Homo sapiens: one gene and its partner. The protein of the gene in region 1 interacts with the protein of each later gene in a biochemical or structural test. Each region holds a gene or a part of one and is shown in the gene's direction. Other genes may lie near its edges.

What was found.
Region 2: the proteins of RNF34 (region 1) and RUBCN form a complex in vitro, tested with the Homo sapiens proteins (one study listed by BioGRID).

The regions. Positions count from the first base shown.
Region 1 is NC_000012.12:121,395,205-121,410,117, forward strand, and holds the start of RNF34 (E3 ubiquitin-protein ligase RNF34), read left to right. Parts: upstream 1-4,913; 5' UTR 4,914-5,008; coding exon 5,009-5,014; intron 5,015-6,834; exon of another isoform or gene 6,835-6,891; intron 6,892-7,537; exon of another isoform or gene 7,538-7,594; coding exon of another isoform or gene 7,595-7,603; intron 7,604-9,644; exon of another isoform or gene 9,645-9,909; intron 9,910-13,256; exon of another isoform or gene 13,257-13,271; coding exon of another isoform or gene 13,272-13,505; intron 13,506-14,913. Other genes in the region: KDM2B (lysine-specific demethylase 2B), read right to left, coding at 13,272-13,505. UniProt on the Homo sapiens protein: E3 ubiquitin-protein ligase that regulates several biological processes through the ubiquitin-mediated proteasomal degradation of various target proteins.
Region 2 is NC_000003.12:197,730,659-197,745,949, reverse strand, and holds the start of RUBCN (run domain Beclin-1-interacting and cysteine-rich domain-containing protein), read left to right. Parts: upstream 1-9,045; 5' UTR 9,046-9,230; coding exon 9,231-9,295; intron 9,296-15,291.

The DNA.
Region 1 (14,913 bases):
CCCAGGACTCTGGGAGGCTGAGACTGGCGGATCACGAGGTCAGGAGATCGAGACCATCCTGGCTAACACAGTGAAACCCTGTCTCTACTAAAAATACAAAAAATTAGCCTGGCGTGGTGGTGGGCGCCTGTAGTCCCAGCTACCCAGGAGGCTGAGGCAGGAGAATGGCGTGAACCCCGGAGGTGGAGCTTGCAGTGAGCTGAGATTGCATCACTGCACTCCAGCCTGGGCGACAGAGCAAGACTCCATCTCAAAAAAAAAAAAAAAAAAAAAAAAAGAGGGTCATTATATAAAATTTGAAACAAAGAAAAAACTATGATCACAAAATGCATCTCTTTCATTGAAAAAAGAGTGATATTTAAGCACAAATCTCTCTCAACTTCAGAAGGTCCCAACTTCAGGTAGGTAGGCATTGTAAACTCATGTGTAACCTATTTACTCCCTTATGTTTTTTTTTTTTAAATCATTTTCCTTCTCCACCTTCCAGAAAAAAAAGTATTCACTCAAACTTTTATTGATGGGTGGGTGTGGTGGCTCATGCCTGTAATCCCAACACTTTGGGAGGCTGAGGCAGGGGGATCTCTTGAGGCTAGGACTTGGAGACCAGCCTGGGCAAAATGGTGAAACCCCTCTACTAAAAATACAAAAATTAGCTGGGCATGGTGGTGCACACCTGTAACCCCAGCTACTACTCGGGAGGCTGAGTCATGAGAATCACTTGAACCTGGGAGGTAGAGGTTGCAATGAGCCAAGATCGCGTCACTGCACTCTAGCCTAGGCGACAGAGCGAGACTCCGTCTCAAAAAAAAAAAAAAAAATACAATTCAGCTGGGCACGGTGGCTCACGCCTGTAATCCCAACACTTTGGGAGGCCAAAGTGGGCAGATCACTTGAGGTCAGGAGTTTGAGACCAGCCTGGCCAACATGGTGAAACCTCATCTCTCCTAAAAATAAAAAAGTTACCCGGATGTGTGGCATGCACCTGTCATCCCAGATACTCGGGAGGCTGAGGTAGAAGAATCACTTGAACCTGAGAGGCAGAGCTTGCAGTGAGCAGAGATTGTACCACCGCACTCCAGCCTGGGTGACAGAGGGAGACTCTCTCAAAAACAACAGCAACAACAAAAAACCAAACACAATTTACTGGGAGCTTGCTTATGCTAGGTACAGATCTGTGTGCTGGGGACAAAATAAGACAAGTCTTCCCAAGTATTGCACTGTTTTAAATTTTCCCCTGATACTTAAGTTTCTCCCTAGCCTTTGTTGTTTTCATTGTCCTTCTGTGGCCACTTTCCAGCTGCATTAACTCTTCTTTTTGTGTTCCTCAATATTAACAGCTTTATTGAGATATAATTCACATACCATATAATACACCCGTTTAAATTATACAATTTAGTAGTTTTTAGTATACTCACAGAGCTGTACAACCATTCACATAGCTAATTTTAGAACGTTTTCTTTTCCTTTTTTTTTTTTTTTTTTTGAGCAGGGTCTCGCTTTGTCACCCAGGCTGGAGTACAGTGGCTCACTGCAGCCTCGACCTCCTGGGCACAAGTGATCCTCCTACCTCAGCCTCCCGAGTAGCTGGGACTACAGGTGTGCACCACGATACCCAGTTAATTTTTGTTTTTATGTTTTGTAGAGATGGGATCTCCTTATGTTGCCCAGGCTGGTCTCGAACTCCCGGGTTCAGGTGATCCTCCCGTCTCAGCCTCCCAAAGTGCTCAGATTACAGCCATGAGCAATCACACCCGGCCTAGAATGTTTTGTTTTGTTTTGTTTTGTTTTTTGAGACAGAGTCTTGCTCTGTCACCCAGGCTGGAGTGCAGTGGCGTGATCTCGGCTCACTACAAACTCTGCCTCCCGGGTTCACGCCATTCTCCTGCCTCAGCCTCCCAAGTAGCTGGGACTACAGGCGCCCGCCACCGCGCCCGGCTAATTTTTTGTATTTTTTAGTAGAGATGGGGCTTCACCGTTGTCTGGATCTCCTGACCTCGTGATCCGCCCGCCTTGGCCTCCCAAAGTGCTGGGATTACAGGCGTGAGCCACCGCGCCCAGCCTCCTAGAATGTTTTCATTACCCCAAAAGAAACCTGTGTCTAGTAGCAGTCACTCCATTTCCCCCCTCCTCCTTCAGAGACCTTAATCACTACTCTACTTTCTATCTCTATGGATTGGCTTATTTTGGACATTTCCTGTAAATGGAATCATACAATATATAATCTTTTTGTATCTAGCTTTTTTCACTTAGCATTATTATTTTCTTTTTCTTTTCTTTTCTTTTCTTTTTTTTTTTTTTTTTGAGACAGGGCCTTGCTCTGTCGCTCAGGCTGGAGTGCAGTGGCGCAATTTTGGCTCACCGCAGCCTCAACCTCCTGGGTTCAAGAGATTCTCCCACCTCTGGCTCCCGAGTAGCTGGGATTACAGGCGTGCGTCGCCACATCCGGCTATTTTTTTTTTTTTTTTTTTTTGTATTTTTAGTAGAGATAGGGTTTCACCACGTTGGCCAGGCTGGTCTCGAACACCTGACCTCATGTGATCCGCCCGCCTCCGCCTCCTGAAGCCTTAGGACTACAGGAGTGAGTCACTGTACTCAGCCAGCCGCATGATGTTTTCAAGGTTCATCCATGTTGCAGTATGTATCAGTACTTCATTCCTTTTTTGGTCTAATAATATTCCACTGCATAGAGAGACCACATTTCCTTTAACCATTTCTCAGATAATGGACATTTGGGTTGTTTTTACTTTTTGACTATTATGAATAATGCTGCTAAGAACCATTAGCATGTACGTTTTTCTGTGGACCTAGGTTTTCATTTCTCTCGGGTATACACCTAGGAGTGGAATTTCTGGGTCTTATGGTAACTCTGTATGTTTTAACATTTTTGGGCCGGGCGCGGTGGCTCACGCCTGTAATCCCAGCACTTTGGGAGGCCGAGGTGGGCGGATCACGAGGTCAGGAGATCGAGACCATCCTGGCTAACACGGTGAAACCCGTCTCTACTAAAAATACAAAAAACTAGCCGGGCGCGGTGGCGGGCGCCTGTAGTCCCAGCTACTTGGGAGGCTGAGGCAGGAGAATGGCGTGAACCCAGGAGACGGAGCTTGCAGTGAGCAGAAATCGCGCCATTGCACTCCAGCCTGGGCGACAGAGCGAGACTCCGTCTCAAAAAAAAAAAAATTTTTTTTTTTAAGAATTGTCAGGCATTTTCATAGCAGCTGCATCATTTTACATTCCCACCATTCATGTATGAAGATTCCAAATTCTCCACATCCTCACCATCTATTTTCTTTCTTTTTAATGTTACCCATCCTTGCAGGCGCACAGCGGTATCCATGGATTTGATGTGCATTTCCTTGATAGTTAATGATGTTGAGCATCTTTCATGTGCTTATTAACTCTGGAGGTAGACCTGCCAGGCCTTTTCTAATGAGGGACAACCATGGCTTTGTACCCCAAGAACATTTTTATTGAGTTGCTTTGTGTCTAGATCATTAGGAGAATTAATTAATACTTTCTCTTCCAATGAAGCTCAGCTGCGTCCTACATCGTGAATGAAAGGCTTTCTGTACATTTTTCCAAAAAAAACCTAGGACTATTATGGATAAGAAGTGACATTATCTGAGCAGCACTTGAAGCAAGAGAAATACATACTCTGATGCATTATTTCAGTCTAAGGAAGTGGCCTGCCACGCACTCTCTCTCTCTCCGTGTGTTTTAATCTAATATAGCACAACTTGTCGAAGCAAATCTATAATGTATATAAATAACAGAACAGTCTTAGGTCCTCATGAAGAGCGAACTGACTTTTTTATGTTTAAAATCTTAAATACTGGTTAAGTTAGAGGTGAGATTAAAAAGTGTAGGAAAATCGGCTGGGCCCGGTGGCTAATCTCAGCACTTTGGAAGGCCGAGGTGGGCGGCTCACCTGAGGCCAGGAGTTCTAGACCAGCCTGGCCAACACAGTGAAAACCAGTCTCTACTAAAAATAGAAAAAATTAGCCGGGTGTGGGGCGGGCGCACGAAGTCCCAGCTACTAGGGAGGCTGAGGCAGGAGAATCCTTTGAACCCGGGAGACGGAGGTTGCAGTGAGCCGAGATCACACTATTGCACTCCAGCCTGGGCAAGAGCAAGACCTTGTCAAAAATAAAAAAAAGGTGTAGGAAAATAAACTGTCATCCAGTACAGCTGAAGAAATCGATACCTTAATTTACAACCTCAGTTTCTCTGTCCAAAGGCAATTCCAAGACTCGAGCAAATTCTTTTATTATGCTACGATTTTGGTTATTTTGAATACAGCTTTTCAAAGAGCCCTTGGGATTTGAGAGCCCTTGGTTTTCTAAGTGTTTTCAATAAGTCTTGTTTTTAAAGGCCGCGTCCTAGCGAGTGCAGCTGCCGCTCCTTACCGGACCCACGAGTGAGGAGCCCCGAGGTCATCACCGAGCATGAACGCGGGAACGTCTGGGAAGGAAATCTGAGGCCCTGCTCTGACGGTCATAACAAAGGCCTTCGAGCCAACCGGCGTGTTCAAATTCACCACGGCCCTTCCCGCGCTCCCCTCCCCGGAAACTTGACCACCTAGCCCAGAAAGCCGCAGCAGCTTCCTCAGGGACGCTATCTCCCATTTCAAACACCCAACCGAGAAAGCAGCGCCGCAGCGCGCCTTCCGCCACGCCCAGGTCCGCAGGTCTTCGCTCGGGGCGGAAAAGAATCCTCCCCGCGCACTCCCAGCCAGGAGGAACGCCAGAGGCCCCGCCCAATCCCTGTCGCTTCATTGGCTCTGGTGACCGGCCTCCCGAAAGTCGGCTTCCTATTGGTCGTCGTGGCCGCCGCTCTGCGCTTTTACCGGGGCACGCGGCGAGCGTGACCACGCCCCTTACGTCCGGACGCTCGGTCGCCTCCCGGGGCGCGGTAATCACCGCCCAGAGGGAAGGAGGTCGGCAGTGTGAGGAGCTGCTATGGTGCTGAGTTTCCTGGTAGAGCCGGCCGAGCTGAGGCGGTCGCGGCCATGAAGGTGAGGGGCCGGTGGAGCCGGACAGACCCTCCTCGCCAATCCTATCCTGCCAGGGCACCTGAAGCGCCTCCTTTCTTTCCGCCTTAGCGGTTACCTAGTCGTCATCTCGGAGAGCTGCGCTGAGGGGGGTCGCTTGCCCGGCTTCAGGTGCCCCAACCGAGCCAGGGCAGGCTGCCGGACCCTCTCGAGCTCCTCCAGTGCCACCCCCGTCAGCGACCCGAGCGGTGGGGAGAAGCCGGGCGTCCCTAGCGTTCGCGCCGGGTGGGCCCCTCTCTGCGCCGGGCCCTGTGCGCCTCCTCGGGGGCCTGAGGCAGAGCCGCCAGGGCTCGCCTGAGCCTCGGTCCCTTGGCGCGCGGCGTGCCCTTTCCCGCCCCGAGTCCTTGAACTAACCCAAGTGTTGGGGACATCGTGGGACCGAGGAGAACAGGAGGGGTGCAGGGGGTGGTGAGGCTAGGGCCAGGCTAACGGGTTAAAGAACTCTCAGGGTGGGGATGCCACCCGGAAGGGGTGCTTCGTAGGCTGCACGTCGGGGCCGCGAACTAGAGAAGGCTGGATGTGCCTCCATCGCCACTAGGTAAACGCAGCAAGGAATTTGGCAGCTTGAGTTCTCCAAGGTGGGAGTGAGAGCGTGGGAGCATTACTGATGAGAAGTTGAAGAAAAGGGGAAAGGGGAGCGGGGTTTCCGGCCTACTTCTGAGAGATGATTCTCAACCCGATCACTGAGAGTTCTGAAGAGCTTTGTGAACAGCAGTCAGTTCAGGGTATTGATTCATTTGCCGAACTCAAACCAAGTGGGATGAGTCATAAGGTGATGATAACTTTCAGACCTAGATGGTTTCGTTAATCTCAGTGCAGAGGTGTGCTGGGGGTGGGTAATCTAGCAGGTGAGCTGCTAGATTAACGCTGTCTCCATAAAGCGTCAAAGATTTACTATAGAAGATTGAAAAAGAGTGTCAGCTGGTCACAGAAATTCAGCACATGTTTTGTTGAACGTTTTCTGTGCGTTAGCCAAGAGGGAGACATGGTGAAGAGAAGTAATTCAAAATACAGTCTCATCCCTTAGGAAGGCAGTTTACCATTCAAAAGAAGAGTTATTTGTAAGTAACCATATTACAAGGCAGAAGGCTATAGGTATCAAAAAAAAAAAAAAAAAAAAGGCAGGGACAAAACACAGGAGCCAGAAAGGATACTTCTGGCTACAGAAAGCAAGGAATATTTTTGGAATAGGTAACTTTGGAACTGTGCCTTGAAGTATGAGGATATTGTAAAAGCTTATTTTTAACTTTCCAGTTTAGTTATAAAATATTATTACAGCTTGAAATATCTATTAAAGTATCTAGAAGTAGCTTTATTTCCTGAAAACCACCCTCTGCTGTGTTAAGATCCAAAAACAAAGCAGGGATCTTTATATATAATGCCTCGAAGAATCAGTATCTTTATTAATATTAAATTTGTGGCCCATTAAGGAACTAGCTATCGAAGGAAAGAATTAGAGACAGGTCCAGTGTTGAAATTTTTAAACAAGTTCTTTGAAAACAGACGTGTGTTTTGAATTGAAGTGGAAGGTACTACTTTCTAAGATGAAATTTTAGAAACAAAGTTTGGTGGCAATTGAAATTATAGAAAAGATACGTATTTTCAGAAGCAAAATATGGACCTGAATAGACATCAGCCTGTGCCAGATGACAGTTATAAATGATGCTTTTGTTTTTGTGAAACTGGATTTACACCATTGAGGATTTGGGCTGTTAAATGTTTATTATTTAACTTAATGTTGATTTATATTGAAATTGTTTAATTGTGGGTATGCTCATCTGTAGATTTCTGGGCAGAGACTGATTCCTGATGTCATGGAATGCTAACATGTGAATGTTCATGTAAGGAAATACTTCTTTCTGTGGAATTAAAATTACATTAAAAGCTAAGCAAGTATACCTGGCCGGGTGCAATAGCTCACGCCTATAATCCCAGCACTTTGGGAGGCCAAGGCAGATGGATCACTTGAGGTCAGGAGTTCGAGAACAGCTTGGCCAACATAGCAAAACCCTGTCTCGATTAAAAATTATTTTAAAAAGAAAAAAAGGAAAAAAAAAGTTAAGCAGTTAAAAATAAACAAGAAAAGCTAAGCAATTATATGGATAAGTACATGTTCACTCAAACCTGGAGCAGCTGGTTTTAGTATATGTACGGAATGGGTATTTACTTTCTCCCTTTGGCGTTTTGGTTTGGTTTGGTTTGGTTTGGTTTAGAAACTGATGTTTTGAAATAGGTCTTACCTCTCAGACTCAAGTAACTTTTTAACCTTGCAGTAACATCCAATCAACTTCCTATAAGGGATTAAAAAAAAAAATCCAAATTGGTGCCCTGTGTTAATTTGATTTAATCCTCTTTCCCATTTTTCCTTATTTATATTGATCTCACCATTAATTGTGCTAATCTGGGTTCTTCCAAGCTCAAAATGAGATATCAAGGAGAAAGTAATCTACTGAATGTAATTCCTTTTCCTTTTTTTTTCTCTGAAAGGTGGGGGAGTGGTACTAAGGATCAAGTATACTGTTAAAAGAAAACAAAAACCCAAGCATGAGGAAGGTAACATTTGTATCTATAGCACATGTTATTGTAATAATCGATCAGTTTGGCCAATGTCTTGTCTAAAAGTATTACATTTTAGAGTTCATCATCTGTTTTTGCAACCTGCTTAATGTCCAAATGGTATGAGAGAAATAATTTAGGATGTAGAATTCCTTCCTTTGTGGTATATGGTCGGATATTTGGTCACTAAGAAAGAGTTAGGTCCCTGCATATTGTATTTCAGTTGAAGCAGCAGTTTTGATAAGAAATCCTTTCACATTCTAAGGAGCATATGTTTCTCAAATGGCTCTAAATAGGATAAAGAGGCCGGGCGCGGTGGCTCACGCCTGTAGTCCCAGCACTTTGGGAGGCCGAGGCAGGCAGATCACAAGGTCAGGAGGTTGAGACCATCCTGGCTAACACAGTGAAACCCTGTCTCTACTAAAAATACAAAAAATTAGCTGGATGTGGTGGCGGGCGCCTGTAGTCCCAGCTACTCTGGAGGCTGAGGCAGGAGAATGGCGTGAACCCGGGAGGCAGAGTTTGCAGTGAGCCAAGATTGCGCCACTGCACTCCAGCCTGGGCAACAGAGCAAGACTCTGTCTCCAAAAAAAAAAACCAAAACAAAAAAAAAAAAGGATAAAGATTTTGCTTTTTTATCAACTGTTTTTTCTGCTTTGCTTTTAGTTATGTAGGAAAGTTTAACCTAACCAAGATTAAACTGTAAAACCGATTATTTTATATCACCGTTGCTAAGATTTAATACATCTTTTTCCTGTCGTTTAACACAGGACATTGAGTTTTAGCAAACTGAAGGTTGTCCAGAGTTTGAAACAAACCCTGGACATATAGTGGGTGAGTTCTCTGAGGAAGCTTTCATTGATGGAAGAACAGTATCGCTCCTTGGTCCTTGTAGATTCATGTAGCATCTGAGACAATTATTTTTGAATTTAAAACTTCTAGGTTCATCCTTAAAATAACTGTGTAAATAATATATTTAACTTAGAGTTATGGCAAGCAAGGTAGACGCTTATGAGAAGAGTCTATGGGTTTATTATTACATTGCTATTTACCTAGTTTAATAAAAAGTGAATGACTGTGTAGTAACATATTAGAGTTTTGGCAAGCAAGATAGACTCTTACGAGAAGAGTCTATGGCATTATTATTACCTTGCTATTTACCTAGTTTAATAAAAAGTGAATGACTTAGATCATTTAGTTTTCTGTTTCTTTTTTTTTTTTTTGAGATGGAATCTCACTCTGTCGCCAGGCTGGAGTGCAGTGGCACGATCTCAGCTCACTGCAACCTCTGCCTCTCGGGTTCAAACAGTTCTCCTGCCTCAGCTTCCCAAGTAGCTGCCATGCCCGGCTAATTTTTTTTTTTTTTCTTCGTATTTAGTAGAGACGGAGTTTCACAATGTTGCCCAGGCTGGTCCCAAACTCCTGAGCTCAGGCAGTCCACTTGCCTTGGCCTCCCAAACTGCTAGGATTACAGGCTTGAGCCATGGCACCTGGCCTAGTTGTCTGTTTTCATACTCATAAACTTTCTTTTCCCACTCTCCCCCTATACTTCTCTTGTGTCTGGCTGTCATTTAATCTTTTTTTTTTTTTTTTTTTTTTTTTGAGATGGAGTCTCTCTTTGTTGCCCAGGCTGGAGTGCGGTGGCACCATCTCAGCTTACTGCAGTCTCCGCCTCAAGTGATTCTCCTGCCTCAGCCTCCTGTGTAGCTGGGACTACAGTTGTGCACCACCACACCCAGCTAATTTTTTTTGGTATTTTTAGTAGAGACCGGGTTTCACCATCTTGGCTAGGCTGGTCTTGAACTCCTGACCTCAAGTGATTCTGGCCTCCTAAAGTGCTGGGATTAGAGGTGTGAGCTACTGCGCCCAGCCTGTCATTTAATCTTCATGGAAACTACCATAGCTTTTCTGATTCTTCGTTCTAGTCTGGCTGGTTGATAATATATTTAATGGAATCATTAAAAGTTTAGGGTTGAAAATTTGTGGTAAATTTGTGAATTCTTTAAATTGAGCATTTTGAAGTATTTTCTCCCCACAGGGATTCTGAAAACATATTAGATTATACACACACAGAAGCAAAGACAGCTGAACCTTGAGGCCATTTGAAAATCCTGGCACTGTGCCAGAAAGAGAGCTGGGCTGCTGCTCTTGCAAAGAAACAGAACACCTTTCCTCTTGCTTTTGTTGACTGTAATGATGTTTCATGGGCTTATATTGTTTGACTCTGACTGAGGAACCTGAGAGAGTCCTTATAACCTTATTGGCTGGAAACTGTCATTCCTACTCTTACGCAGATTATTTAGGTTTGTATTCTTTCCCCTCCCATTTGCTTCCTCTCCTTTGCTCCTACAGAGGGGAGGGGGCTTCTAATTCATTTTTGGGGAGGGAACAGTATGGGAGAAACACTGTCAGTCTCTGCTATGGGAGGAAAAAGAGGGACTTGAATATTGAGGAGTTTCAGTGAAGGAACTGACATGCTTGGCTCAGTACTTTCTGGGACCTTCTCACATTTGTCTTCCTGTAGTGAAGATGGAGTTCTGGTCTCCACTCAACTAGCTGGTAAGCTGCTCTTGGTCAGCTGTATATTATCCAGACTTGGCTACAGAGCTAAGGTTCTGTTCTCCAGTTGATGCTATCAGTAAAAACAAACATTTTAATTTCCATTTGTCTTCTTGCTTTTTTTTTCTTTTTGAGACAGGGTCTTGCTCTGTCACCTAGGCTGGAGTGCAGTGGTGCAATCTCTGCTTACCGCAACCTCCGTCTCCCAGGTTCAAGCAGTTCTCCTGCCTCACCCTTCTGAGTAGCTAGGATTACAGGCATCCACCACCATACCTGGCTAATTTTTGTATTTTTAGTAGAGACGGGGTTTCACCATGTTGACCAGGCTGGTCTGGAACTCCTGACCTCAGATGATCCTCCTGCCTCGGCCTCCCAAAGTGCTGGGATCACAGGCGTGAGCCACCGTGTCCGGCCTCTGTCTTATTTCTTTTTTTTTTTTCTTGAGACGGAGTCTTGCTCTGTTGCCCAGGCTGGAGTGCAGTGGTGCAATCTCGGCTCACTGCAAGCTCTGCCTCCCAGGTTCACGCCATTCTCCTGCCTCAGCCTCCTGAGTAGCTGGGACTACAAGTGCCTGCTACCACGTCCAGCTAATTTTTTGTATTTTTAGTAGAGACGGGGTTTCACCATGTTAGCCAGGATGGTCTCGATCTCCTGACCTTGTGATCTGCCTGCCTCGGCCTCCCAAAGTGCTGGGATTACATGAGCCACCGTGCCCGGCCTGTCTTATTTCTTAATTAGCTCCAAATTGGATGTGGAAAAAAGGTACTGTTACTGGCTCCCTAAAATCTTGGTGCACTGTCTTTGAAGAAAAGAGGAGAACTGGCATTGGATACCAGAATGACATGAGGATATCTAGGTGTCTGAGGCAGTCCAGGCAGGTTTTAGAATTTGATTTCTTATTATGGAATGTGTAAGTTGTTGTTGTTGTTGTTGTTTGAGACAGACTCTTGCTGTGTCGCCCAGGCTGGAGTGCAGTGGCGTGATCTCAGCTCACTGCAGCCTCCGCCTCCCATTTCAAGTGATTCTTGTGCCTCAACCTCCCCAGTGGCTGGGACTACAGGCACTTGCCACCACGCCTGACTAATTTTTTGTATTTCAGTAGAGATGGCGTTTCACCACGTTGCCCACGCTGGTCTCGAACTCCTGAGCTCAAGCAATCCGCCCACTTCAGCCTCCCAAAGTGCTAGGATTACAGGCGTGAGCCACCGCGCCGGGCTGGTGTTAAGTTTTTAAATACGATACCTGGTTTTTAACTGATATAAGCCAGGCAGACCATGGTCCTATGGTGGCTCTACTGAGAGCAGCTTTGGCTTAAGAGAGTGGGTAGGAAAGGGATTAGACTATCAAGAACAAGTCATTTATTTTTAGTAATCACTGATGACTAGAAAATAAACTCCAAACACAGGTGAATTCTCTGAGCTTGGAGTTTTGTGCTAGGCATAGGCAGACAGTTGCCTCATTCTCTTATTCTCTATGTTGTTTTAAACTACATTCATGGTCAAGAGAGGAAATTTAGCTATCTTCACGATTATCGTTCTTTTTTAAAAATATAATTTCAACTTTTAGATTTGGGGGTACACGTACAGACTTGTTACATGGGTATATTGAGTGACGCTAAAGTTTGGGGTACAGTTGGTCCCGCCAGCAGGTAGTGAACACAGTACCCAACAGTTAGTTTTTCACCCCTTGTTCCTTTCCTCCCTCCTTCCCCCTCCCCCCAGATTATTGTTCTTTCTAAACTGTTAGAAAAAGGGTTATACTTCTTACATACCACTTGGATGCATGTGGTATAACCCATGGAGTTTTGCTGCCAACTAAGGTCCCCAAGTAGGTCATGAAAGCCCAGATCATGGCTTGCATTTTGAAAGTTCCAGACTTTTCAGAGATCTGGCTTTGGGCTTTATTCACGGAGGAGTAACTGTAGGGTTTTTTTCCCCCAATGAACAAATAATGGATGGTGACCCTTCCATAAAGAAGGCACCACTTTGGAATTGAGGCCAGTGAATTGACTGCAAATTCAGAAGCCAAAAGGGTATGCCTAGTATACTGTCAGAAGCCAGAGGTGGGGGTATGCCTAGTATACAACAACTCAGTGAATTGACTGCAAATGCAGAAGCCAAAGGCATATGCCTAGTATACAACAACTCAGTGAACTGACTGCAAATTCGGAAGCCCAAGGGCTACGCCTAGTATGCTGTCTTTCCAGGAATTGAGTTTTCTCAAAATCTAGGAGGAAATGGAGTGGTTTGTAGAAGATGCTTCAATCTTACTATCAGTATGGAAGCAATGAATGAATAAAAGAAAAATAAAGGAATACAGGCTAATTTAACTGGAGGAAGATCTTAAAGTATAGGGAAGACAGAAATGGAACAGGAAAGAACATGAACTTAGGTCTCTAAAGCTTTTAAAAGGAGGGTGCAGAAGAGGGATCCTTGTTGGTTATGACCCTACCGGATATGGTAACTGGGTTCCAAGGAAATATAACAGAGGCAGAGTGTGAAGAGCTCAGAAAATAGATTGGCATATGTTCCCCCCATCCCTTGTCCCCCTCTCCACTGTAAGAGCTCAGATTCAATAAACCCTTGGGGAAATTGTCTTTTAAATAGTTCTCCAATTGCTTTTATAGGTTCTGTCAAGTCATAACAGAAAATGTGGGCCAAGCGTGGTAGCTCATGCCTGTAATCCCAGTGATTTGGGAGGCTGAAGCAGAAGGATCCCTTGAGCCCTGGAGTTTGAGATCAGCCTGGGCAGCATATCAAGACCCCGTCTCTAAAAAAATAAAAATAAATGGCCAGGTGTGGTGGCTCACGCCTGTAATCCCAACACTTTGGGAGGCTGAGGCAGGCAGATCACCTGAGGTCAGGAGTTCGAGACCAGCCTGGCCAACATGGTGAAACCCCGTCTCTACTAAAAATACAAAAAATTACCAGGGTGTGATGGCAGGCACTTGTAATCCCAGCTACTTGGGAGGCTGAGGCACAAGAATCACTTGAACTCAAGAGGCAGAGGTTGCAGTGAGCCAAGATCATACCACCGCACTCCAGCCTGGGTAACAAGAGTGAAACTCTGTCTAAAAAATAAAAATAAAAATAAAAATAAATAAAAACTAGAAAATGTGTACAGATTTAAGAGGGGAAAGATCAGTATAGGACACTTCAAGCACTGTTAGGTGAGTGTCAAGGTGACAGTTGTAGGTAGAGATGCCTTTGCCCTGAGGAGGCATGCAGAATAAATTTCTGAAATTTATGAGAAAGTACAGGAAGATGAAACATACTAAAGGAGAGCCAGGTAGATGGAGTCCAGGCTTGGAAGGATTTATCTTCTGGATGGATTCTTCATCCTGGAGGTGAAGAAGGACAAAAACACTTTGAACAATGGCTGCTTTTGATAGACCCAGAAATCACTGACTTTCTCCTCATATTGGGAGATTTCACACAAGAAAACGTGCAGAGGAGTTAAGGTGGGAAATAAAAGTTGGGGCCCAAAGGCAAAGAGCAAATAAAATCAAGGAGAGCACCAAAGTCCAGCAAAAGTTACAGGCCAATCTGTGGTAAAAAGGAAAGGGATTCATTGAAGAATCAGATTGTTAAAAACTCAGGTGACCCTTTCTTTTTTTTTTTGAGATGGAGTCTTGCTCGGTCACCCAGGCTGGAGTGCAGTGGTACAGTGGCGTGATATCTGCTCACTGCAACCTCCACCTCCCAGGTTCAAACGATTCTCCTGCCTCAGCCTCTCGAGTAGCTTGGACCACAGGCGTGCACCACCATGCCCGGCTAATTTTTGTATTTTTAGTAGAGACGGGGTTTTACCATGTTGGCCAGGCTGGTCTCAAACTCCTGTCCTCAGGTGACCTGCTGGCCTCGGCCTCCCAAACTGCTGGGATTATAGGCATGGACCACAACACTTGGCCAAAACTTAGCTGACCCTTTCTTAAAGGATTGGGTAAAACCAAAGTGGGATGCAAAATACTACATATCCCACAACAGAAAAACATGTAGACAGGTCTTGGGGAGTATGTTGCCGAGGCATTAGTTCCAGAACTCTAGGGCCACAGGCTTCCAAAGTAACCACAGCCCTTTCCACTCAGGAATTTGTGGAGGGTGATGTCCCAGCTGAAACAGTGTAGGCAGGAAGAAGACATCTTCCCTTTGACTGAGCAGGTCTTAAGCTTTTAACCTGGCCTGTATATCAGAATTACCCAGGGAGTTTTCAAAAAAATTCTGGTGCCCAGGCTGCACCACAGACCAGTGAAATCAGAACCTCTGGGCCTGGGACCCCAGGAATCAGTATTTTTAAAGACTTGCCTGGTGAGTCCAACATGCAGCCAAGGCTGAAAACCATTCTCTTAAGGGCAGTTTCACAACCCTAGGCAATTCCTTAGCAAGAAGTACTGACAGCAGCTACGAAGGTACAGGACTAAAACACCTGTTTCACTGAAGGGCAGCGGGGGTGGGTGTTACCTGGCACTTCAGTGCTAAAATGAATGTAAAGAAATTATGTTCATGGCCAGGCGTGGTGGCTCATACCTGTAATCCCAGCACTTTGGGAAGCCGAGGCGGGCGGATCATCTGAGGTCAGGAGTTCGAGACCAGCCTGACCAACATGGAGAAACCCTGCCTCTACTAAAAATACAAAATTAGCCGGGCATGGTGGCAGATGCCTGTAATCCCAGCTACTAGGAGGCTGAGGCAGCAGAATCGGTTGAACCTGGGAGGTAGAGGTTGCGGTGAGCCAAGATCGTGCCATCG
Region 2 (15,291 bases), on another chromosome or scaffold:
ATTCTTTTCCTCAACCTCCCCTATAGCTGAGATTACAGGTGCATGGCACCACGCCCAGCTAATTTTTGTATTTTTAGTGGAGACAGCATTTCACTATGTTGGCCAGGCTGGTCTCGAACTCCTGACCTCAGGTGATCCACCCGACTCAGACTCCCAAAGTGCTGGCATTACAGGTGTGAGCCACCGCGCCCAGCTCAACCTCATAGTTTTCTGTTAACACTTTCTGGCTCCTTTTTCATAATGTGCACAGAAATCTATGTTTCTTCAAAGGTAGTAAACTCTTACACACTTCACCCCTTAACTTTTTATCAGTTTGATTTGCCTTTTTTTTTTTGAGATGGATTTTCACTCTTTTTGCCCAGGCTGGAGTGCAGTGGCATGATCTCACCTCACCACAACCTCTGCCTCCCGGATTCAAGAAATTCTCCTGCCTTAGCCTCCCAAGTAGCTGGGATTTCAGGCATGCGCCACCATGCTGAGCTAATTTTGTATTTTTAGTAGAGACAGTGTTTCACCATGTTGGTCAGGCTGGTCTCGAACTCCCGACCTCAGGTAATCCGCCCGCCTCAGCCTCCCAAAGTGCTGGGATTACAGGTGTGAGCCACTGCACCTGGCTTGATTTGCCTTTTAAATCCCCCTTTTCTTTTCTTTCTTTTTTTTTTTTTGAGACAGCATCTCTCTCTGTTGCCCAGGCTGGAGTGCAATGGCGTGATCTCGGCTCACTGCAACCTCCGCCTCCCGGGTTCAAGCAATTCTCCTGCCTCAGCCTCCTGAGTAGCTGGGACTACAGGTGCGTGCCACCACGCCTGGCTAAATTTTATATTTTTAATAGAGATGGGGTTTCACCATGTTGGCCAGGATGGTCTCGATCTCTTGACTTTGTGATCTGCCCACCTCGGCCTCCCAAAGTGCTGGGATTACAGGTGTGAAGCCACCGTGCCCAGCCTAAATCCCCCTTTTCTTAGTTTTGAGATATATTTGATAATAAAAGACACATACTGAAAGTATGCAGTTTATACAGGTGTACAGGATATATACCTGTGAAAACACTACGATAATCTGAATAAATATTATTATATATTCATTATTTTCTAAAGTTTTCTTGCTCACCTTTGTAATCCTTACCCCCCACCTACTATCTAGGCAACTACTGATCTGTTTTCTGTTGCTGTAGATTAATTTGCATTTTCTAGTATTTTTAATAAATGGAATCATACAGTATATACTTTTTAACTGGATTATTTCACATAGCATAACTGTTTTTTATTTGTATGCCTTTTCTTTTTCTTGCCTTATTGCACTGACTAGGGACTCTAGTATCATGTTTAATTGGAGTAGTGAAAGTGAACATCTTTGCCTTGTTCCCAACCCCAGAGGGAAAGCGTTCAGTCTTTCAACATTAAGTATGATGCTAATTTTTAAAAATGCCTTTTTTTAGGTTGAGGAAGTTCCCTTCTACTCCTGATTTGCTGAGAGTTAATCATGAATAAATGCTGAGTTTTATCTGATGCTTTTTCTGTATCTAGAGATTATCAAAAGGTTTTTCTTGCAAAATGTATTAATATGGCGAATTACATTGGCTATCAAATTTTGAATGTTGATTTTGTTTTTGAATGTTGATGTTCCAAATATTGCATTTTTGGGATAAACCTACTTGGTCATGGTATATTATCCTTTTTACATGTTGTTGGATTTGACTTGCTAATATTTTGCCAAGAATTTTGTCTTTTCATGAGTGACACTGGTATGTAATTTCCTTTTCTTGTAATTCATTTGTCTGTTTCTTATGTTAACTCTTTTGCTTTTCAAAAGAGGATATCTAGAAATCATATTGATGTAATATGTATTATACTGGTATATTAAAGAAGTATGGTATAATTTATATTATATGATATATAGATAATATGTATTAGGTATAATAACTAATTATTAGCTAATATTAGTTATTTTTTATTTATTTATTTTTTAGACAGAGTCTCACTCTGTCACCCAGGCTGGAGTCCAGTGGCGCAATCTTGACTCACTGCAACCTCCGCCTCCCGGGTTCAAGCAATTCTCCTGCCTCAGCCTCCCAAGTAGCTGGGATTACAGGCGCTCGCCACCACGCCCGGCTAATTTTTGTATTTTTAGTAGAGACGGGGTTTCACCATGTTGGTCAGGCTGGTCTTGAACTCCTGACCTCGTGATCCACCCACCTCGGCCTCCCAAAGTTTTGGGATTACAGGCGTGAGCCACCGCGCCTGGCCAATATTAGTTATTAATAAACAATAGCTAATTCGTAGCACCCTTAAACTACTTATATATACACTACAGGTTTTCTTCTCTTTTCTGTTCAATTTTTTCCATTCTACCTGTCTGCTGCTGTCTTCTGCTGCAGTAGCTTTTCTTTGCCACTTTGCTGTAGCTTTCTGTCCCTCTTCTGTGTTGCCCTTTTCCTTTGTTGTAAACTTTTCCTGTTCTAGTCTTCTGCCTTTTAATCTCAAAATTTGTTTGTTCATTTATTCGTTCATTCAACAGAGTTCGAGGTCCTCCTATGTGCAAGACACTGTGCTAGAGGCTGGGGATACCGCAGAGAACATGACAGACGGGGTTGCAGGCATAGCTGCTGCCCTTAAGAAACTCAAGACACTGTGCTAGAGGCTGGGGATACCGCAGAGAACATGACAGACGGGGTGGCAGGCATAGCTGCTGCCCTTAAGAAACTCAAGACACTGTGCTAGAGGCTGGGGATACTGCAGAGAACATGACAGACGGGGTTGCAGGCATAGCTGCTGCCCTTAAGAAACTCAAGAGCTCCGGAGGAGCCTGCCCGCCTCAGCTAGCAAGTTTAAAGGAGCACTACTGGCCACTAAGTCCCTGAGCATCAGTTCTGTGTGACTAGGGAATCTGCTCTGGGTGGACAAGGGAACTTGAAGGGGAATTCTTCCTGGACTCAGGGGTGGGACCTCTCAGCTTATTAGGCCTTGCCCTCCCTAGGGAAGGCAGGAGTCTTGACCACCAGGGGTTCTAGATTGACTCACTGAATGACCAACTGTGGCATTTTCCAAAGCTAAACAAATTTACATAAAGTGCAAAATTCCACCCATTTACATAAAACTGTTTGTTTTTCGAAGATATCCTCAATTTGTACTGGATGGATTTGTAGTCCAGGAAGGCTCAGGGAGCCAGGATTCTTGGGTCGCGGGTCTTCAGGCATTCCTCCTTCTCCCAGGCTTCTTCTCTCTGTGCCCCGCAGGTTCCCTGCTCTGGGATGAGGAGCCCAGGCTGGGGGAGACTAACTAAAGCACAGCGTCTTGCACATAGCAGCCACTCAAGCTCTGACCCTCTTCATGCAGTGGAGGGTCCCTTCTGTGCAGCTTTACTCAGCGAGAGTTGCAGGAAGCTGGGGCAGGGACAAAACGAACATTCGTCAACTATGTTAAGGATTTGCTCAGTCTAGAAATAAGATTTTTTTTTTTTGAGACAGTCTCACTTTGTCACCCAGGCTGGAGTGCAGTGGTGGGATCTCGGCTCACTGAAACCTCCGCTTCCCAGGTTCAGGTGATTCTCCTGCCTCAGCCTCCCAAGTGGCTGGGATTACAGGCGTCCGCCACCAAGCCCAGCTGATTTTTGTATTTTTAGTAGAGATGGGGTTTCACCATGCTGGCCAGGCTGGCCTCGAACTTCTGACCTCAAGCGATCCGCCCACCTCGGCCTCCTAAAGTGCTGCTATTACAGGCGTGAGCCACTGCACTCAGCTTAGAAATAAGATTTTTAAAATTTTCATTTTAACATTAAAAATTGCACATTTTCTTTGGGAGGCCGAGGTGGGCAGATCATGAGGTCAGGAGATCGAAACCATCCTGGCTAACACAGTGAAACCCCGTCTCTACTAAAAATACAAAAAATTAGCCAGGCGGCAGCGGGCGCCCGTAATTTTAGCTACTCAGGAGGCTGAGGCAGGAGAATCGCTTGAACCTGGGAGGCAGAGGTTGCAGTGAGCCAAGATTGCGCCACTGCACTCCAGCCTGGGTGACAAAGCGAGACTCCGTCTCAAAAAAAAAGAAAAAGCACACATTTTTATCCACCGTTCGTGGCTGGCAAGTGTTCCTATATAGTTTTTTGGGGTTTTTTTTTTTTGAGATGGAGTCTTGCTCTGTTGCAGTGGTGCAATCTCTGGAGTGCAGTGGTGCGATCTCAGCTCACTGCAATGTCCACCTCCTGGGTTCAAGGGATTCTCCTGCCTCAGCCTCCCAGGTAGCTGGGATTACAGGCGCCCACCACCATGCCTGGCGAATTTTTAGTAGAGACAGGATTTCACCATGTTAGCCAGGCTGTTCTTGAACTCCTGACCTCAAGTGATCCTCCCACCTCGGCCTCCCAAGGTGCTGGGATTACAGGCATGAGCCACTGTGCCCAGCCAGTTCCTATATAATTGAATAAATGAACCACTACTAAGTGCTTAGAGGGGATGGAAATGTTGCTATAAAGACAGAATAAAAGCTAAGTAATTAAAACTTGGCAAAATTCTTCAAAAGCTTTTAAAATCATCTCATCAGATGAACTACTATAAGCTTTATATATGCCTAACAGAAAAAGAATTTTGGTAAATCAGTAAATTTGGTAAAGTCAGTGAATTGGTCATTTGGCAAAATTGGCTTAAAAGACTTTTAGAAATGCTACCTATGGGGAAAACATAAATTAATTTTAAACTGTCTTTAAAGTTAATCATTACAAGATTAAAAATTTCCATGTGAAACACTAAAATTTTTGTTATATTTAGCAGGATACAGTCATAAGAAAACAAAACCATACTAAGATCATTGACTATTTTTTTAGGTCCCCATGAAAGCAGAACCTTGACTATTTTTTAAACTTGCAAATGTAGAGAAAAGTTGCAAAAATAGTGCAATGAATACCCATATATCCTCTACTTCGCCAATTAATGTTTTGCCACATTTGCTTTCTCTCTGTATAGAGGTATTAGTTGTTGTTAGACAATTTGAGAGAAAGTTGCAGGAATTATGACTCTTTAGAATCTATTTCTAAGGGCTGTGTGCAGTGGCTCACACGTGTAATCCCAGCACTTTGGGAGGCTGAGGTGGGCAGGTCACTTGAGGTCAGAAGTTCGAGACCAGCCTGGCCAACATGATGAAACCCCGTCTCTACTAAAAATATAAAAACTAACTGGGCGTGGTGTTGGGCACCTGTAATCCCAGCTACTCGGGAGGCTGAGGCAGGAGAATTGCTTGAACCCAGGAGGCACAGGTTGCAGTGAGCTGAGATTGTGCCACTGCACTCCAGCCTGGGCAACACAGCAAGACTCTGTCTCAAAAAAAAAAGAAAGAGAATATATTTCTAGGGATATTCCTTAACATAACCATGCTAAAATTACCAAGTTTAGAAAATTTAACATTGATGCTGTACTATTATCCAATTATGGTTCATGTTCAAATTTTGCCAATTATACTACAAAATTTCTTTTTCTTTTTCTTTTTTTTTAAGATGGAGTCTTGCCTTGTTGCCCAGGATGGAGTGCAATGGCATGACCTCAGCTCACTGCAACCTCCGCCTCCCAGGTTAAAGAGATTCTCCTGGCTCAGCCTCCCGAGTAGCTGGGATTACAGGCGTCTGCCACCATTCCCAGCTAATTTTTTGTATTTTGTATTTTCAGTGGATCCATGATCCAGCCTGAGTGACAGAGCGAGACTCCATCTCAAAAGAAAAAAAAACAAAAGAAGGGGTTCAGGATTATGAGGGAAAGTAGAGGGATGGGATAGGTAACGCATGGCTAGTGCAGATTATTGTCATGTTTATTAATGGCTTTAAAGAAAATCCAGTACATGTAACTTGAACTTGGACATATGAGAAAAAGCCTGTTTTCCAGCCTTTTTGCTACAATTTTAGTTTTTGGATTTCTTTTTTTTCTCCCCAAGACAGTCTCACTCTGTCACCCAGGGTGGAGTGCAGTGGTACAATCTCAGCTCACTGCAACCTCTACCTCACGGGTTCAAACGATTCTCATGCCTCAGCCACCCAAGTAGCTGGGATTACAGGCGTGTGCCACTACACCCGACTATTTTTTCTTTGTATTTTTAGTAGAGACAGAGTTTCACTATGTTGGCCAGGCTGGTTTCGAACTCCTGGTGTCAAGTGACCCGCCTGCCTGGGCCTCCCAGTGTTGAGATTACAGGCGTGAGCCACCGCTTCTGGCCCCTAGGATTTCCTGATAAAGCTGATTGCCTTTTTTTTTGAAACGGAGTCTCCCTCTGTCGCCCAGGTCTAGCTCTGTCTTCCAGGCTGGAGTGCAGTGGCGTGATCTCTGCTCACTGCAAGCTCCGCCTCCCGGGTTCATCACGCCATTCTCCTGCCTCAGCCTCCGGAGTAGCTGGGACTACAGGCGCCCGCCACCACGCCCGGCTAATTTTTTGTTGTATTTTTAGTAGAGACGGGGTTTCACCGTGTCAGCCAGGATAGTCTCCATCTCCTGACCTCGTGATCTGCCCGCCTTGACCTCCCAAAGTGCTGGGATTACAGGCATGAGCCACCACGCCCGGCCTTTTTTTTTTTTTCTTTTTTCAGACGAAGTCTTGCTCTTATCGCCCAGGCTGGAGTGCAGTAGCACGATCTCGGCTCACTGCAAGCCCTGCCTCCTGGGTTCAAGCCATTCTCCTGCCTCAGCCTCCTGAGTAGCTGGGATTACAGGCGTCTGCCACCATGCCCGGCTAATTTTTTTGTATTTTTTAGTACGCCTGTAATCCCAGCACTTTGGGAGGCCGAAGCCGGCGGATCACCTGAGGTCGGGAGTTCAAGACCGGCCTGACCAACATGGAGAAACCTTGTCCCTACTAAAAAATACAAAATTAGCCGGGCGTGGTGGCGGATGCCTGTAATCCCAGCTGCTCAGGAGGCTGAGGCAGGAGAATCGCTTGAACCCGATCGCGCCATTGCACTCCAGTCTAGCCAACAAGAGTGAAACTCTGTCTCAAAAATAAATAAATAAATAATATAGTGTTAATTTGGGATTATACTGTATGCCAAAAAATAAAGTTCATACATTTATAGAACTAGAAGTAAGGCCAGGTATGGTGCCTCATGCCTGTAATCCCAATACTTTTTGGGTGACTGAGGCAGGAGGACTGCTTGAGCCCAGGAATTTGAGACCAGCTTAGGCAGCACAGTGAGACCCTGTCTCTACCAAAAATTAAAAAAAAAAAAACAAATTAGCTGGGCATAGTGGCACTGCCTGTGGTCCCAGCTACTTGGGAAGCTGAGGTGAGAGGATCCGCTTGAGGAGGTTGAGGCTGCAGTGAACTGTGGCAGCGCTACTGCACCCCAGCCTGGGTGACAGAGCAAGACTGCGTCTCCAAAAGAGAAGAAAGTCACAGAAGGAAGAGAAATCCCAATGAGTAATATTGCCCCTTTCTTAAAGAAGTATAATCGTTTAGTAGGAAAATGAGAAAGTTTGAAAGAGAGTATTTTTTTAACCTAAATGAAATCATAAATGGCTTCAAGAGGCTCTTTCATTTCATTTTTAATTGCCAAAACACTTTTGTCAAGTTTGAAAATACCTAAAAGCCATATATTATTTTAATATAGAGTCATTAGTTTTTCACGGAGTTATTCTTGATCGCTCTTTCTCCCTCACTTGCCACAGTCAGTCCTTTATAGAGTAGTGCTGATTCTGTTGCCTTCACATTGCTGTAATCTGAGCCTCCTTGTTCTCTTCAACCGCTGCTGTAGTTTAAGCCTGGGTTTGCAAACTAGCAACTCAAGGGCCACCTTCAGCCTACAGACAAGCTGTGTTTGGCCTGTGCAAAGTTGAAAGTTTAAAAAATTTGTTGCCAACGTTTAAAAATTTGGAAGTAGTGCTTAAAAATGCAGATCCTAGCTTCTTTTAAAAAATCAAAATATCATAGCTAGGTGTGGTGGCTCGCACCTGTAGTCCCAGCTATTCAGGAGGCTGAGGAAGGAGGACTGCTTGAGCCCAGGAGTTCCAGGCTGCAGGGAGCTATGATTGCGCCACTGCACCCCAGCCTGGGCGACAGAGAGAGACCCCGTCTTTGAAAAAGAAAAAAGAGAAACCAGAGTATCTGGCAACCCTAGGCCCACGTTTCTTTCAACTGGTTCGCTTCACTTCTTAGCATTACTTGGTTATCCCCCATAAGGATGACCAGTCTCCTATCTAGCCTTCCACCGTTACCTCAATATAGTATTATATCTGCCCCATCTCCTGTCCACATTGTCAAAAGTGGCTTTCTCATCAGATTCGATCAAATCACTTCTTGATTTGCATATGCTTGATTTGCTGATTGTTTTCAGGATAAAATCCAAACTCCTTAAAATGGCATTTCATGATCTGGTTTCCCCACACCAGAATGCCCACACCATGCTGCTGCTCACTCCTTCCCAGCTCTGGCTACCCAGCACCTGCAGTTCCCAAGCCAGCACTTCCTTCCTTGTATCTGCCGTGTTGCTCTCTCCACCTTCTCTTCTTTCTCCTGGCTAACCCGTACTCAGCCTTGAAAACTCTGCGTTGACATCCATCTTCCGAGAGCCCCCAGAAGCCTTTCTCTCCTGCTCTTTTATGATCCCAAAGCAACCTGTGCTCTTGTTTGTGAGCGCTTCATTTAAATGCTCGAGGTCTCCAAACACCACCAGCGGACATTAAGCCAGGGCGGGCTGAGTGGGGTTAATCGTACCGGGATTAGATTAGCGTTATTGCCTAGTCTACATCTCGGACTGAGTTCGGTCCCCAGCGTGTAATGTCACGGGGGTGAATAAGGATACGCCCCGGCACGGATTCCTGAGACCAAGGTCCCCCGCCGCTTGCAAGCCGGCCCAGCCAACCACCGGGTGCGTAGTAATCCACGAGCGCGGCCTGGGATTGGAGGGCGCGGCCTGCGGGAGCGGCCTGGGATTGGAGGGCGCGGCTTGCGGGAGCGGCCTGCCGTTGGAGGGGCGCGGTCTGCGAGCGCGGCCTGGGATTGGAGGACGCGTCCTGCGGGAGCGGCCTAGCCTCGGAGTGCTCGCCGGGGGCTGTAGTCCCCGGAGCCGGAAGTGGGGGTGGCCGGGATAGAAGCCGCAGCCCAGGCGGCGGTCCCTCCCGCTGTCGCCGCCCGGGTGTAGCGCATCACCCGGAGCCCACCGGCCGCAGGTGCCTCCTCCGGCCCCAGGGGGCCCCGGGAGCCCTGAAGGGCGAAGCGGCAGGGACGCCTCTCTTGGGCGAAGAGGCGGCCTCACCGCCCCGGATGCGGCCGGAGGGCGCGGGAATGGAGCTCGGAGGCGGCGAGGAGCGCCTGCCTGAGGAGAGCAGGTGGGCTGGGAGCCGCCGCGGAGTCGGGGCAGCGACAGGCGCCGGAGCCCCGGGAGGCTTGGGAGGGCGCGGGGTCACGGAGAGAAGGGCCGGGCGCGACGAGTCTTGAGGACGACGGCTGCGGAGGACTTGTTTGGGAAGCATTTCGCAGAGGAAGGACGGGCGGGGCGGGGATGGGACGAAGGAACCGGCTTAGGGTGAGGAGGGTGGGTGGGATTTGCGGAGGGCAAGGGCAGCAGAGGAGGGTGAAGCTCAGATCCAAGACTGCTGGAGAGGAGGTGGCAGCTGAGAGACTGGGCGAAGAGGCCAGAGGGGTGCAGTGAGGTTTTACAGGCCAGAGTCTATAGACAGGGGCAGGGCACCACCCGGACTGAAACTTGCCGTGACAGCAAGTGGGGCCAACGCGAAGAGGATGTGAGAATTCCTGGGAGCAGAGGTGAAGCGTTATGAGTGGCCTCGGAAGAAGCTTAGGCAGAGATGAGCATGGGGATGAAGGCGAGGAGAGCCTGGGGAGAAAGTGAGCGAGTGTCATGGCAGTGCGGTGGGGCGGGGACTGCTAATGAGACCAGAAACTCTGCACTTTGTCATTGCCGAATCCCTGTCAGAGAGTGGCAGGACCTCTGTGCCATTTCCTTTTCGTCTTCAAACCTGTCCCTTTTTCCTCACAATGCAAACTAAGCAAGTTCACATTTATTTATATGGAACCATGTCAGAAAGCTCATATCTTCTAGAAATTGGGGGATTTAAAATATAAAAACTACTTTGGACCGGGTGCGGTGCCTCACACCTGTAATTCCAGCACCTTGGGGGAGGCTGAGGCGGGTCGCTTGAGTCCAGGAGTTTGAGACCAGCCTGGGTAACCTAGGGAGATCCCCGTCTCTACAAAAATACAAAAATTAGCTCGGCGTGGTGGTGCTCACCTGTGGTGCCAGCTACTCGGGAGGCTGAGGCGAGAGGATCACTTGAGTCCAATAAGTCGAGGCTGCATTGAGCCGAGATCGCACCACTACACTCCAGCCTGGGTGACAGAGGAAGACCCTGTCTTCAAAAAACAAAAAGCCAAAGAAACCCCGAACTACTTTGACTAAATGATGAATCGGAGTCTGTAGAGATGCCTTCCATATTTAGGGTTTGCTTCATTAATAACTCTGGTCTTAATCTTTTTTAAAGAGGCTGGAATGCTGACAGGCGAGAGCAGGAATGTGGCTTAAGGGAGTCATACTTGACATTTATTATTTTATTTTTATTTTATTTTTTGAGACACAGCCTCACCCTGTCCCCCAGGCTGAGCGCAGTGCCGTGAACACGGCTCACTGCAGCCTCCAACTCTTGGGCTCAAGCGATTATACTAGCTCAGCTTCCCAAGTAGCTGGGGATATAGGTGCCAGCTACCACATCTGGCTACTTTAAAAAACTTTTTTGTAGAGACAGGGTCTCACCATATTGCCCAGGCTGGTCTCTAACTCCTGGGCTCAAGCAATTCTCCCCCGCCACGTCGGCCTCCCAAAGTGCTGGAATTAACAGGTGTGAGCCACCAGGCCTGACCTCACTTGACATTTAGAAACAGTTTCAGATATAATGATGGTCTCAGGAGCAGCTGGGATCCAAAAACTAGAAGCAGAATATTTACCTCTGAGAAAATATCAACAAGGGAAGATTTATGAGATGTTCCTGGGTGAAGACTTGCTATTTTTAAGGGTGACTCTACTTTTATGTGCAAAGTGGCCTGTTGAACAAAACCTGGACTGACAGGACTTTGGGGCTCCTGCCTGAGATCTGAGAATGATTTGTGCTAAGTGAAACTGAACATCTTACTTCCCTTTTCCATGTTTCAGTTTCTGCTTTGCCTATTTGACTATTTATTCTTCCTGCAGATGTCTGTGACGTGCTTCGTGTGAAAGGTCCCATGTAAATTCTAAACACGTTTTAGGATTGTTTTGATTTCCCTCTACCACTTCATGTGAGGGAGGCTGGGTTAGTTATTTTTTTAATGTATGTAACAAATGCTATTTACCACATGCCAGGAATTGTTTTAAGGTATTAAGATATGAATACTGCGTTAACTTCTTTAATCCCTATAACTATTGTATGTGGTCGGTACTACTGTTATTGCTGTGTCACAGATGAGAAAGCTGAGAAATGGACAGGGTAAGTAACTTGCCAAGGTTGTACAGCGAATCCCTGGCAGAACTGGATTCAAACCCAGGCAGTTCGGCACCAGAGTCTGCGCTTTTTTTTTTTTTTCTTTTTTTAGACAGGGTCTCACTATGTTGCCTAGGCTGGTCTCAAACTCCTGGGCTCAAGATATTCTCCAGCCTCGGCCTCTCAAAAGTGCTGAGGTTACAGGCATGAGCGACCATGCCGGCCCAAGAGACTGCACTTTTTTTTTTTTTTTTTTGAGATAGAGTCTTGCTCTGTCGCCAAGGCTGGAGTGCAGTGGCACCGTCTTGCTTCACTACAACCTCTGCCTCCCAGGTTCAAACAATTCTCCTGCCTCAGCCTCCCAAGTAGCTGGGATTACAGGTGCCCGCCACCACGCCCAGCTAATTTTTTGTATTTTTAGTAGAGACGGGGTTTCGCCATGTTGGCCAGGCTGGTCTCAAACTCCTGACCTCAGAGGATCTACCAGCCTCCGCCTCCCAAAGTGCTGGGATTACAAGCGTGAACCACCGTGCCCGGCCCGAGTCTGTACTTTTAATACTCACCCTATGCTGCCTCTCACTATGCTAATAGTAACAACGGAAGTATAAGATAGTGAATAAATTTCACAGCATTCTGTGCCTGTCATTCAGGCCAGTAGGATAGCTCCTTTGCAGAATCTTTTCCCGTCTTTTATTCTTTTTATGATTGCCTCTTAACCAAAAAACTTTAATCAAAACTTAATTTTAGTAGTGGGGTTATCCTCACAAAGTCACTCCCGTCATTGTTATAGGCATACTGTGTTGGCGGCTGATTAATTCAGAATGCGTTGTTTAATGAGGCTTCATGGTACTGATGGCCTCCTTAGCTCCAGATACACAACTGGTAAATACACATTCCTTGTGCCTATTAATTGAGGCTTTGTGACTGGGTTACTGCAAACATAACCTTTCTATGGCCAATGAAATACCCAGTTCAGAAACAGTCTTCTTGATGAGATAGCATCATTTTTATTTATTTATTTATATATTTTAAAGATAGGGTCTCACTGTGTCACTCAGGCTGGAGTACAATAGTGCAATCGTAGCTCACTGCAGCCTCAAACTCCTGGGCTCAGGTGATCTTCCCACCTCAGCCTCCTCAGTAGCTAGGACTACAGGTGTGTGCCACCACTCCCAGCTAATTTTTAATTTTTTCAGATTTTTTGTAGTGACAGAGTCTCACCATGTTGCCTAGGCCAGTCTCAAACTCCTGGCCTCAAGGGATCTTGCTGCCTTGGCCTCCCAGAGCACTGGGATTACAAGCATGAGCCACTGTGCCCAGCCGGTAGTGTCATTTTAAAAATGAAGGATGAAACTTTTCAGTGTATTTTCCTTAAGTAGTTGATATAATGAAACGTGAATAAGCTTTAAAGTCAGACCTGCATTTGAATCCTAGTTCACGGATTAATTTGGCTTAACTTGATCAAGTTACTTTACGTAACCTGCCTGAGTAGGAAGAATAATGCTTTCCTGCCTGAGAAGTTCTGAGGATTCAATAAAACAATGTGCATAAAGCTCCTGAGAGCCTGATACGTAGGAAGTAGGAAAAATGTCGAATCCACCCCTTGCTAGTTTTTTTGAAATAAGGCGAGGGTCTCCCCCACAAGTGACTGTTTGCAAGGGTATCACTTGTTCTTCCTCTTTCAGTGGCTCCTTCATCCGAGTTGAACACATTGGGACCTAGAGTGTTGGCTTAGCTTCCCACTTCCCCGGTAGTGTGCTTAGGTGATGGGCTTCCCTATTGTTTTCCGTCTAGCTATCACTCCAGCCAGATGCTCTGGGGCTTAGGGATGATACTTCACTTTCCCTCCGTTTCCTAAATGCCAGTTATTTTGAGGTTGCCTGGTAAAACTACTACACTACACTGGGCACGGTGGCTCACGCCTGTAATCCCAACACTTTGGGAGGCCAAGGTGGGTGGATCACGAGGTCAGGAGATCGAGACCATCCTGGCTAACACAGTGAAACCCCGTCTCTACTAAAAATACAAAAAATTAGCCAGGCGTGGTGGCAGGCGCCTGTAGTCCCAGCTACTGGGGAGGTTGAGGCAGGAGAATGGCGTGAACCCGGGAGGCGGAGCTTGCAGTGAGCCGAGATCACGCCACTGCACTCCAGCCTGGGAGACAGAGTGAGACTCGTCTCAAAAATACCCAAACTACTAGACTGGTAAACTGCTAAAGGAATGGTCTTTCTGGCATTGCTCTGTCTCCCTAGACCGCCTTGGCCATGCAGTGTACTGTCTCCCTAGACTGCCTTGGCCATGCAGTCTACTGCTGAGCTTGCAGCTCAGGTACATGTACTGCTCAGTGCTCCTGGCACCGTGATCCAGGTACAGTCAGAATTCAAGGAGTAAGATCCGTTTTAGCATCTCCAAACTAAGCTTATTCCACTGACCAAAACCTGCCCCTCCTCTGATCTCTGTTAATAGCATTTTCCACTCACTCAACATGCCAGAGCGTCAGAGTGACATTTGACATTTCGCTCTTCTCTATTTCCCATATGTAAGCAGTCACCAGGGTCTAAAATTCTGTTCCTAATTTTTCTTTTGAAGCCTTCTTTTTCTCTCCATTTCCAAATATAATGGCTTATAGTACTAAAAAATCTAGGGTGACTGGGAAGTGAGGAGCCACTCTGCCCGGCCAGCCGCCCTGTCCCGGAGGGAGGTGGGGGGGTCAGCCCCCCGCCCGGCCAGCCGCCCCATCCGGGAGGGAGGTGGGGGGGTCAGCCCCCCGCCCGGCCAGTCGCCCCATCCGGGAAGTGAGGGGCGCCTCTGCCCGGCTGCCCCTACTGGGAAGTGAGGAGCCCCTCTGCCCGGCCAGCCGCCCCGTCCGGGAGGGAGGTGGGGGGGTCAGGCCCCGCCCGGCCAGCCGCCCCATCCGGGAGGTGAGGGGCGCCTCTGCCCGGTCGCGCCTACTGGGAAGTGAGGAGCCCCTCTGCCCAGCCACCACCCCGTCTGGGAGGTGTACCCAACAGCTCATTGAGAACGGGCCATGATGACAATGGCGGTTTTGTAGAATAGAAACGGGGGAAAGGTGGGGAAAAGATTGAGAAATCGGATGGTTGCCGTGTCTGTGTGGAAAGAGGTAGACATGGGAGACTTTTCATTTTGTTCTGTACTAAGAAAAATTCTTCTGCCTTGGGATCCTGTTGATCGGTGACGTTACCCCCAACCCTGTGCTCTCTGAAACATGTGCTGTATCCACTCAGGGTTGAATGGATTGAGGGTGGTGCAAGATGTGCTTTGTTAAACAGATGCTTGAAGGCAGCATGCTCCTTAAGAGTCATCACCACTCCCTAATCTCAAGTACCCAGGGACACAAACACTGCGGAAGGCCGCAGGGTCCTCTGCCTAGGAAAACCGGAGACCTTTGTTCACTTGTTTATCTGCTGACCTTCCCTCCACTATTGTCCTGTGACCCTGCCAAATCCCCCTCTGCGAGAAACACCCAAGAATGATCAATAAAAACAAAAACAAAAACAAAAAACCTCTAGTTAACACATAATAATGCCCGCACTGAGCAGATGTTCACTAAGGTGTTGAATAAATAGTTGAAACTGTAAAAAAAAAAAAAAAAAAAAAAAAAAAAAAGATGCTTTTAAAATATGAAAAAAAAAGATATTTTAATGAGAAAAGCTGAGTGTTGGGAGAGAAGCTGATGCAGGGCTTGCATGTCTGCTAGACTTGCTGGCTCCTTGCTTCTAGCACTCCCATTATCTCAAGCAGCCATATGTTTCTCATTCACTTGATACACTGTTTCCTTTCAACCCCCACATCCTCACCACCTGTTTCTTTGTTTGATCATCAATAAATGGTGT